2 separate regions of the Homo sapiens genome follow, and region 2 is linked to region 1. The links come from fine-mapping of genetic effects on gene expression. A gene starts in region 1. The other region holds a variant in brackets. All regions are shown on one strand. Distances are from middle to middle.

What was found. PIP is the estimated chance that this variant, and not a neighbour inherited with it, causes the effect.
Region 2: its variant is the best candidate, but not a certain one, in a credible set for the expression of THRB-AS2 in pituitary (GTEx, PIP 0.86).

Annotation. Positions count from the first base shown.
Region 1 is chr3:24,148,992-24,154,383 of GRCh38, reverse strand. THRB-AS2 (THRB antisense RNA 2) reads right to left here and starts at 3,060. Exons shown (of 4, transcript NR_121667.1): 1 at 2,984-3,060. It overlaps THRB (thyroid hormone receptor beta), which reads left to right. Exons shown (of 11, transcript NM_001354712.2): 6 at 1,894-1,994. RefSeq lists a silencer at 1,170-1,370.
Region 2 is chr3:24,161,521-24,166,912 of GRCh38, reverse strand. All of the region lies in intron 5 of THRB (thyroid hormone receptor beta), which reads left to right. All of the region lies in intron 1 of THRB-AS2 (THRB antisense RNA 2), which reads right to left. Among named protein-coding and RNA genes, the nearest start is that of THRB-AS2, 13 kb to the right of the region's middle. The variant G/A (reference allele first, on the strand shown) is at 3,420.

The sequences.
Region 1 (5,392 bases):
GCACCTAGAACAATGCTAAGCACATGTAGATGCTAAATAAATGTTTTCTGAATTCATAGATAAATGACTGAATGAACGCGCAAAGCATTCTAGTTCCCTTTTTTCTCTGCCCAGATCCTTCCCAGAATTCCCTTTTTAAAAATGACTGACAAGAGTTTTGAAACCCTTGCAGTGAACTCAACAGATGAATCATGGTTTGCATGATGCAAAAGTAAACTAAGAAAAGCTGTGATATTTAAAAATATAATCCTGTACATTACTAAACCTCACTTTCAAGTCAATTATCTGCCTCCCAAGAAGGAACATTTTTCTAAATTAAAGTTGGAGCAACATAATTTCTAAGAAATTATGAAAAGGATTTATTTCATTCTGTTTCCTTAATGGCTTTTTTTCTGAAAAGCAAGACTTCAGTGACCTAGTTTAATAAAAGGTCTATGAAATGTCACGGTAAGATACACAGTAAGGCATCAGTCATTTCAACCTAGCTAATCTTTATTGGAACAAAGAAGACTTTGCTGAACTGAGTCAAAAAACTTCATAAGGACCATGATAGGGAGAAAGGATTGTTTCTCAGCCTCTTCCTTCTTCACATCCCAACCAATCCTGCCTCATTTTGATTGTTTGGTCTTATGTGAAGCTGTGTGATTCTATATATCACATAATTTATCAATGGTAAACCATTGATAGAGGGGAGAATGAACCTGCCCTCCTGAATCAGCATCTTGTGTCTGGGCATCCTCTCCACAGGAAGCTGAAGGAGCAAAGACAGGAGGGAAACAGGAGGCTTCTGCTTTTGTGCTTTTTAGCTTCCTGAGTCAAGGAATTTAAACTAATAAACTCATTGTCCACTAAAAAAGAGAGTTATCATAGTTGGATTTTCCTTTTTTCTTAATAAACAAAACCTCTGTCATTTCACACTATCCAGTGTTGTTGGATTGCATATCATAATATCACAAGTTTACCTAACTTTTTTAGGTGGCAAAATTCATTCTACTTAAAGTCAACTCTCCATTTTTAGAAAAAGACCAGCATATTACACTGGAGGGCTAGAAATTAAGAGACTGGGGTTTTAGTCCTGCCTGTAATTTCCAGTGAGACCCTGAGGAAGGCCAAACCTCTGCAGGCCTGTTTCTTCACCTTACAAGGACTTCGTCATCTCCCGGGACCTTTCCAGCTATAAAGTTTTCTGAATTCATTGCATGGTACTGTGATTCCAAAGTGGATCAAATCTTGTGAAAACAGGTTTTGAAATAAGCCTTGTTAAATAGATTGTGTTATCTAGAACTCACAGTGCTCAAATCCTGGCCTCTCTGCTTGAGTCACTGGCTCTACAGCCTTCCTGCCATTCCCACCTGCACAGCAAGTGATCACAGCTATCTTTCTTTCTTTCTTTCTTTCTTTCTTTCTTTCTTTTTTTTTTTTTGGCAGAATTTCGCTCTTGTCGCCCAGGCTGGAGTGCAGTGGCACAATCTCAGCTCACTGCAACCTCTGCCTCCTGGGTTCAAGTGATTATCTTGCCTCAGCCTCCTGAGTAGCTGGGATTACAGGTGCCTGTCACCATGCCCGGCTAATTATTTGTATTTTTAGTAGAGAGAGGGTTTTGCCATGTTGGCCAGGCTGGTCTTGAACTCCTGACCCCAGGTGATCCACCTGCCTGGGCCTCCCAAAGTGCTGGGATTATAGGTGTGAGCTATTTCTAAGGCATTCTGAAATCCTGGGCCTATGTTAACTCTATGAGTATAAAATTCTTACCGTTTGGTTTCACTAAGTCTTTACTGTTGTTACCTCTTCCTGGCAAGCCAATTTTGTCTCTGGCCTAGCAACCTTAGCTATAGTGTCTCTTTGACGTTAACATATTATTTTTTAATATTCCTTCTTTTATTTCCTTCACAGGGTACATCCCCAGTTACTTAGACAAGGACGAGCTCTGTGTAGTGTGTGGTGACAAAGCCACCGGGTATCACTACCGCTGTATCACGTGTGAAGGCTGCAAGGTAATTGCCCTGGGTCCACAAGCACAGAGCTTAGCCCAGCTCCAGTCCCCTCCCAGTCCTCTTCCAGAATGCAATGTTAAGTTTAAATTCAAATTAAAATCAAATTCTAACATCCATGGTCTGTGATCATCCAGGTGTCTGGTTGTGCTCTTCATTTTTGACATGTTCAAGAACTGAATTTTTTTCCCAAATCATAAATAACTAAATGAGTGTAATGTCTGGTTTCTTTACTTCTGCAAGTGTTTTTAAAACAGGAAGAGAATCAATAAAATAAAAAGAAATTAATAAAACTCTTACTTTGGGTTTAAAAAGCATAGGTCCTTTTTAACATGTTGTCATCCCGAGAAATGACTGTTTCTCTTCTTGTTTTATCTACAGTGTTGGAGGAGACAGAGTTTACTCTACCACAGGCTGTTTTCTGCTGTTAGTCTGAGTGAATATGCTCATTTTCAAGGGTTCCAATAGGGAATATCTTTGAGGCTACTTAGATTCAGTTATGTTCTGAAATTATCCAAGTTGGCTTTTCGCACAGCCTGCAGTGACTAAGTAGATTCTGGTCATCCATCGGCTAATTTTGTGCTGTACAGTCCTATCTGCAGGAAATACTTGACAAGAATATACCAGTGATCAGTCCATTCACTTCCTGAAACTGAACCTAAATTGGCCTACTTACAAGACTTCATCAACAAAATTCAGATAAGGTTTCTGGAAAATATCTTTTGGTCCAACAATCTAGCCTTGAAAATGAAATCTACCATAAAGGAAAAAGCTTGACCCAGTGCTGTATTTCGTGTCTGTTCAGCTAATGTTTCATAAATAAAGAAGTATTTAAAGTCAGGGAAGGACTTTTAAAATTGTTTACTTGTTAAATACCTTGTCTTTTTTACCTCTTATATTTAAAACTAAATTATCAAGATGTAAACCCTAAAGCAAAAATTGTATTAAATGTATAAAACATTTCACCTTCCCTCCTCTCTCATCCACCTTACCTCTTTTTCTCTTCTTCCGCTTCTCCAACTGCCCCGCTTTGTTCATACCCTTGCTCGTAAAGCCCCCAAATCAACATGTTAGCTCAGTTTCAAATTAAGGTGTTTTCCTTTTCCCTAGTGGAAGATTTTCCATGCAAATTCCCTATGTTTTTGTACGTGACATTAGGAAACATTTAGGAGAAGGCTGCTAAAAATGTTGAGATAATACATCCATTGGAAAGGGGTAATTTCTAAGGTTGCAAGACTTGCTTTTTGGAATGTGGTGTAACATGTTCTTATTTATCCAGACCCCTTTGATCTGGAATTCGTAGTCCTTTAACAAAGACTGGGCTAAAGGTTGCCATTACATCTATGAAAATAATGTCTTAGGGAATTTAATGAATCTAATTACAAGTAAGTTCTGGCTATTTATTAATTAGAGACTTGCAGACAGTCTCTTGAAAGTAGTTTTATTGGCTTGATTTGAAAGTAATAAAACTACATAACTTTAGGTACCTACTCTCATTCCAAAAGTTCGATAATTCAAACTAGACTTTTCTCTAAATTAGTCCCAATTCATAAGGCTTTCCCTACCTTAGTTGCAGCACTGAGATTCTTCTAAATCGGCGCATAATGGGAAATTTCGAATTCTGGGAGAGAGATCCTGATTCCATTTAATATGGAATTCAATTTAATACTTAATTCCCCAAAATGACTCTAAAGAGTGAATGTGCCTTACAGAGGACAATACGTTATTAGTGACTGACTTAAACAAAGAGAGAATTGAGCCTATTAACCTATATCCCTGCCTCACATATGTCTTCAGGATGATCAAGAAATCAACTAGCCTGTTTTCCCTAGATCACAGGATGTTTGGAGCCTGGATCAGCTGAGGTTTTCTTAAAAGAAGAAATCGTGTAGCAAAATCTAGATTTTTTTTCAGATTCTGTGACTTTGTCTCAGGTCAGAATCCTGTTTCTAGGGTTGCCTTCATTGTAAAATCAGAGAAGAGCCTTCCCAGGGTACTTGTGCGGATCACTTAATATAATGACAAAGCATCTTGGAAAAAGACAAACGAGTTTTTCAAGTGAAACACGGTTTTTAAGAGTGGTGAAAGATGAAAGGGTTAATTGTTTCCTATATCGTTTATTCAAACCTGTAATTTAAAAATATTTCTACCCCATACTTGCAATGTGTATGGAGAGAATCCTTTTTGCCAGTTTTCACCCTGAGAAGAGTGAAATCTTTTGGAGATGTCATGTCTGTTGTGATATCCAAGTTTTTACACATCTTTTGTAGAAAGGATATTGATACTGTCCCACAGCAAACTATTTTTAGAGAAAGAATCAAAGCTTTTCAACAGCTGCCTGAATAGTGAACTAGAAGAGTGAGTTATCTCCTTTTCACATTGATCAGTGAATCATCTCAAAGTACTAAAAAATGGATACAGTTCTTCTCAGAATACAAAGAAACATGTCTGATATTGATTTATAAAAGCAAGACCTCTTCTTACCAACAAATCATCAATGAAATATATGTCCTTATTTATTGCCCAGGGCATCTCTTTTGTCAGCTCATCTCTAAAAGGATTTTTTTAAAATAAGTAGACTGTTTTAAATGTCTTCAAGTCCACTTCCAAGAGTTAATTTCTGTTACTTTTTAAAATGAAGTGGTTCCTTATCATACATCAAAATATGCTTTAATTATAGCTTAAGAAAGGCCAACATTTTAAGAAGAAAATCAAGAAAAAACAAAAAAAAGAAAGGCCAACATCTTTAAAAGGATTTGGTCCATGAAGTGCCCAAGACAAGTCATCAGAGATAGGCCACAGAAAAGATGGCATAGTGTATAGTAGAGCTAGCTATCTCAACTCTTTTGTGGAAATAAGCAAAGTATAAATTATTTCATTCATCCCAATAAAAAGTGAACAGAGTGACTTTTTGGAGTGTCTGGTGTGTCACACCTCATTCTCTGCTTAGCGTGGTCTTACTGGTCAATGTACTCCTTGCCCTAAACCCACCCCTGAACATGAGTCAGCATCAGAGTATGAGGGAGACAAGGGTCTCCCCAACTTCAGATAGACTAACAATCTTCCTATCCTAGTAAGCCGTCAGCATTCTTACTGGATGTCTTGGACTTTGGTATTTCTACCTCTAGGAAATTATTGTTTCCTCCAGAAGGAGGCGTGCTACCCTACCCCTCCCCTCCCTGTCTGTGACATACATCTTCTTGCCAGGAATCTCTGGGTTTCTTTAGTTCTCCTTTGCCCTCCTTGGTCAGAGGGTAGCAGAGAGAAAAGCTAGGTTTGCAGGGAAACTTGTTTTTCACTCTCATGGCATGCTCTGACATTCATGCTTTGGCAAGATTTGCCCACCCTGCACACCCAGGAAATCATTGCCAACATCTCCAACAACTGCCCTGCGTGTGAAT
Region 2 (5,392 bases), 13 kb before region 1:
TCCTTACTTCTGCCATATGTCCCTGTCCCAGAATTCCACGTTGCAATTGATGACTGGAGCTACATGTCCAAAGCAAAGGTCTCACTGTTGAAAATTACAGTATTACATTGTTGATGGTCCTTTAGAGACAAATACCAACAAGGTCACATGCTCATGGACCAGCAGGAAGCCAAATGTAAACGTAACCACCTGAGGCCGAGCCCTGAAAACAAGCTGCCTAAGAAACGGAAGGAATCCCTAGTGTAGAAGAGCAGCATCCGCCCTTCCTGATGTCATGATCTACAACTATGCATATATGTGACATGCACACACTGGCCACCATCCACAGGGAGAAAATACCATTAGTAATCATCCTAGCAAGCATTCACAATCTAATTTGGTATTTGTTAACTCCTTAGTTAAAAGATATGATGATTCTTACAGAAAATGCTGTTCCCTTTTTGATCACTATCTTTAAGTAAGTACATGAATACCACTTAAATCACATTAAATCTTGAAAATAATCTCAAAAGCAGATTTGAATGGGAATAAAGTGGTAAGTGTTTACAGTTTTCCACGCACTACTGATCAGAGTACTGTTAAGCACCAACAGAAAAGGAAAGCTGCTATATAATAGGGGTATTCCTCATATAGGGGCATTGGCATACAGTCTCTCATGCCTTTATAAAGAAAACATAAATTACAGAATTGAACAGTTAATGTAAGCTTTAGGTCTCATGTAGATTAGTGCTTATGAAGTAGAAAATAATCATGCGCAAGGAACAGAATAAAACTCACTTGCAGACATCAGCAGCATTTTCAACCGTGTACTTCCTTGGCATGTTTTAAAAACCAGCGGGACCTATGTGTCATGGGAAGATGGTTGGATCCTAGTATGAAAACCCAGTCAGTAACATTCAACAACAGATTCAACCACCAATATTTGCACAGCTAGATTAATGTTTTGGAGTCAGTCAGTCATCAGGCTCATTACTACTGGATTTTCTCTGGTTCATGCTAATAAACTAGATTATTGATTTTAGGATTTTCTTTGTATCCAAGGATATTCTCTAAGATGTCTTTATAATGTTTCATGCTTAAGCTGTCAACCAAAATGACATAACAATGAGTAATCGTTTTATAATCATGTTGAAAGGGGTTAAAAACAGCATATAAAATGCATCTTAGCAGCTTCAGAGTAACATTCTCGCTGTCACTTCCCTATCTGGGTGGAGGTCATTCCTACCTGCCTGCCATCTTCCCCAGGAATTAACTAGCTGCATGCACAGCTTAAGACCTTTGATAGTCATAAATCTGCTTTCCAATATGTTTGGATGGCAGAAGAGCTCAAAAGACACCTCGGTCTAAATAGGATTTTAGCACATCAGGTGCTATTACAAAGTAAAGCAGGCTGGGTTGCTGTGTTGGTGGTGGTGTTTATTCATCTTCCCTTCGCGTTTCATGTGTATGTATGTATGCTTCTCTGCGTATATGCCCAGCTCTCAGGGTGTATGGGGCTGGAGAATGCATGCGTAGACTGTGTGTATATGTAAACTAGAAACTGAACCAGGGAAACAAAATGAACTACTGTATGCAAGAAATATATGAAGTGCACCCAGCTGCCGGCAGCAATTGCTACATGCAGTCCACTGATTATTACGCGTATTTTGAAGATAGTCCGGGTTACAGCGGTTGCGATGCTCAGGCTGTGCCCAGTAACAACATATATATGGAACAGGCCTGGGCAGTGAATCAGCCTTATACCTGTAGTTACCCTGGAAACATGTTTAAAAGCAAGGACTCTGACTTGGACATGGCCCTGAATCAATACAGCCAACCTGAATATTTCACTGAAGAAAAGCCTACTTTTTCTCAAGTGCAGTCGCCATCGTATTCTCAAAAAAAAGGTAGGGACCATTTTGCTTAAATTTGTTCAAAGTTTCACTGTTTGTTTTCGTTTCATTTTAAAGTTACAGTTTACATCAGCTTCGTCAAATCTTTGAATTTGAACGCTAAATATTTGAAATTAAAAACGGCAGTAAGAGGGGTTGCTAGGTGATTGAAGGACTCTGTGAACATCAAGATTTCCAAGCACTTTTTTTCTTCATCTTTGAAAGCTGGAGTGAGTTGCCTTTCTGTATTTTGCATGTGTGTGTATATATTGCCCAAAGTGACTATTGTTGGCTTCTTTGCGAAAGAAAATATGTGAAAGGTTTCCTTCTGGCGGGTAGGTGTTGTGGTGTTTGAAGTGAGATAATTCTCTCTAGTTCAGGTTCAGATTAAAAACTCATTTGACTTTTCCTTGGCACTTCATTTTGAAAGTTTATTTTAGTTGACTAGTTAACTAGTAAAATATTTAGTGATTTAGTGATTTCTTTAACAGTACTATACTAATGTTGATTTGCTAGGATCTGTAAATGTTCATTTTAATGTATTTATTTATCCATGTAAACAGTAAAGAATCTATTTGTAACCATGTCAAACTGTAAGATGTAAAACTCAAAAACTGAGAAACTTTACTTTGCTATTTTGTCCCTAAAGTTGAACATGTCTGTAATCATATCAAGTGAATTCTCTTTATGAAAGCAAGTGAAACACACTTCAAAATAGCCAATATTAAAACCAGTACGATATCCATTTATCTTAATAGACACTGTGGCTTTATAATGCTATTTAAATTTCTGTCAATAGAACATTTCTTGTATTACTGAAAAATAAGATACTGAAAAATAAAATAAGGGAGGCAAACAGGTAGAACATTAAGTAGCAACTGCCAGATAGGAATGCTTTTGAAGATAGTGTAAATGCTAGTGCAGATATGCCAGAATCTCATGCTTTTGTATATAATCTATAGGATATTGCATAGAGAACCAAATTTACGAGTTTCTATAATTTACAAAAACATGATGCCCTTTGATCCTCAAAGGTAAATTTCTCTGTTAAATTAATCTTAAAACATAATGTGGTTTATTTAGTTGTGGTTTCTATAAAATTTATCATTTGCTTTTCTTAATGTGACTTTATAATTGAAAGTAGTCTGTTATGAAAACAAATGAACAAAATTTTATAAAAACAAAAACTAGAATCTGTAATTTTTACTATATATAATGTTATTCTATAACTTCCAATCATGAAATATTAAGGGGATTACAGCATGAAATATATTTAGAGTTTCTCATCTTGATTTTTATTTATAAATATAGAGTTTTGCATCCTTTTGAAGGTCATCAGAATCTCATTTATTACAAGGGATACACAGGGTAAGTCCCCTAATGGAAACATTTGAGGTACATTGAACATGTGCTATTTCATTTAATAGTATAAGTAATTTAACTTTGAAAAGAAGAAATTAACATTGCCTCATTAAACATACTTGGATATGCCTTTTGTAGTGTTGTAAGAAAATATTGGTACCTGTCAATCTATGTGCTCATTCTGCT[G/A]TTCTTAAAAATTCCTGCAGAACGTTTCAGGCTCTTTTCTCTTTTATCTTTTCACTGTATTTTCTTCAACCAACACTGGGGAATATTTGCTTATAAAATGTTAAACCAGGGGTTCTTTATTAATTAATTTGATGCATGAACTAAAGGAAAAGACACATTGTATGCATATATTGATGTAATTTCAAAGCCATATGTCATTGAAAGGCCACCGCCACCTGCCAAACTCACTAAATCAAAACAGGCAAATATTCTTAAATGCACCATTATTTACTTTTACAAGTCTTCGAGTAAATCCCAGTAAAACTAAACCCAGCTGTTAACTGTCTCTTAGGACAAAAGGTTGTACCCAACATGTTTATCCATATTGATCCACTATTGATTTTTGTTGTGTTGAATGACATCAGTAGTGTCTCGTTAAGGCAAAATTAAGACCATAAACAGGTGTTCAGTGGGGTAGGCCTCATTTTCCAATTGGATTTTTATCTATTCACAATAGATAAAAGTTCATAATTGCTTCATCTGTGTTCATGGCTGTCATTACAGCTTTATAAACTCCAATACTGCAGCTGTGTTAACTTTTTCTTTATTTTTTTAAGGATGGCTTATTTCCTAGCCTTTATTTTCTAATATACAGAGAATCTTGTAAAAAAAAATTACAATCTTATAAAAAAATTATAGGTACAAACTGGTGAAATAAAGGAAGGCTACACTACCCAATGTTAAGAATGGTTATCTTAATTGGTAGACTTTAGAATAACTTTTAGTTTCCCTTGGATTGTTTTTCTACAAAGTTTTTTTTTTTTTTTTGCATTCATAGCCGACAGAATAAGTTATCAAGTTCTGGAAGCATTAAGAACACGAACTAAGGAAGAGTCAGATGTCAGTTCATTGAATCACATTTAAAATAAAGCTTCAAGAATTGAGGAGGGGAAAACCGATGTAATTTTCACATTGAGGAGGCCTAAAATGCAGAATGTAATGTCTGTCTTATTTTTCATATGGATTATGAAAAAACAAATTTTTAATTTTCAAAAGTTAGGGACAAATGAAAAGAACCCTATCATTCACTCAGAAGATATGATATTTACTGTAATTCTAGTGACATAGCTGTGAAATGCTATGCTAAGTCCTCACGGGGCCAGTGCTGGCTGCACACTTCTGGCCCCTGCAAATTCAGGAGAAGAAGGCAGTAAGTTTGGAATCAGATGGAGGAGAATTGGCAGACAGGTTATTTGTTGTGCTTTCTGCTCTGTGGCTGAGGTTGCAGCAAAGTAAAAAGTTGACTTTTTTTTCTCTTTTCTTTCTTTAAAAAAAAAAAAAAATCCTTTTGTGGGTGGAAGTGCTAGCTGTTTCCATCACAAATACTAATCACATTCCGAAGTTCCCGAACAGCCTGCATCTGCATCTGGCTGCTCTGAAGGCAGCTTTGCAGGTCAACCTCTCGATTTAGTCTGGACCAGCCGGGTCTGTTGAAACAGAAACCTTCCTAGGAGTCTGCCCTGGGCGACTCTCCTCCACGGGATTCTTTGCTTGACCTTCTACATGCCATCTTACTTGATAGGAATTGCATGTTTGAAAAGTTGTCAGAGATGCTTATCATGTCCAAGAGAATAAGAATTTCCTGTTTTTAAGCCAGGATCGAGGAGATGGGGGTGGGGGTGGGGGTGGGGGAGGGTTGTCCTATTCAGTTTTGGTTCTGATTGTATATGTTGTTGCTCTACAACCACATTTTTAATTGTGCAGGAATAAAAATTAATAACTGAAGCAGAAACTCCACACAGGACTGTGCTTTCTGAATCTGCTTTCATTGTTCCTCTGACTTGGAGATAGAATTCTGTCTGTGTGTGTGTGTGTGTGTGTGTGTGTGTGTGTGTGTTCTGTAGCTCTGTTGACTCCAGGTGAACAATTACATAGGCATTTGAAATGAAAATTAAGTAGCAAATTGGGGAATGTTTCTTTCTCAAGCTTTCCTT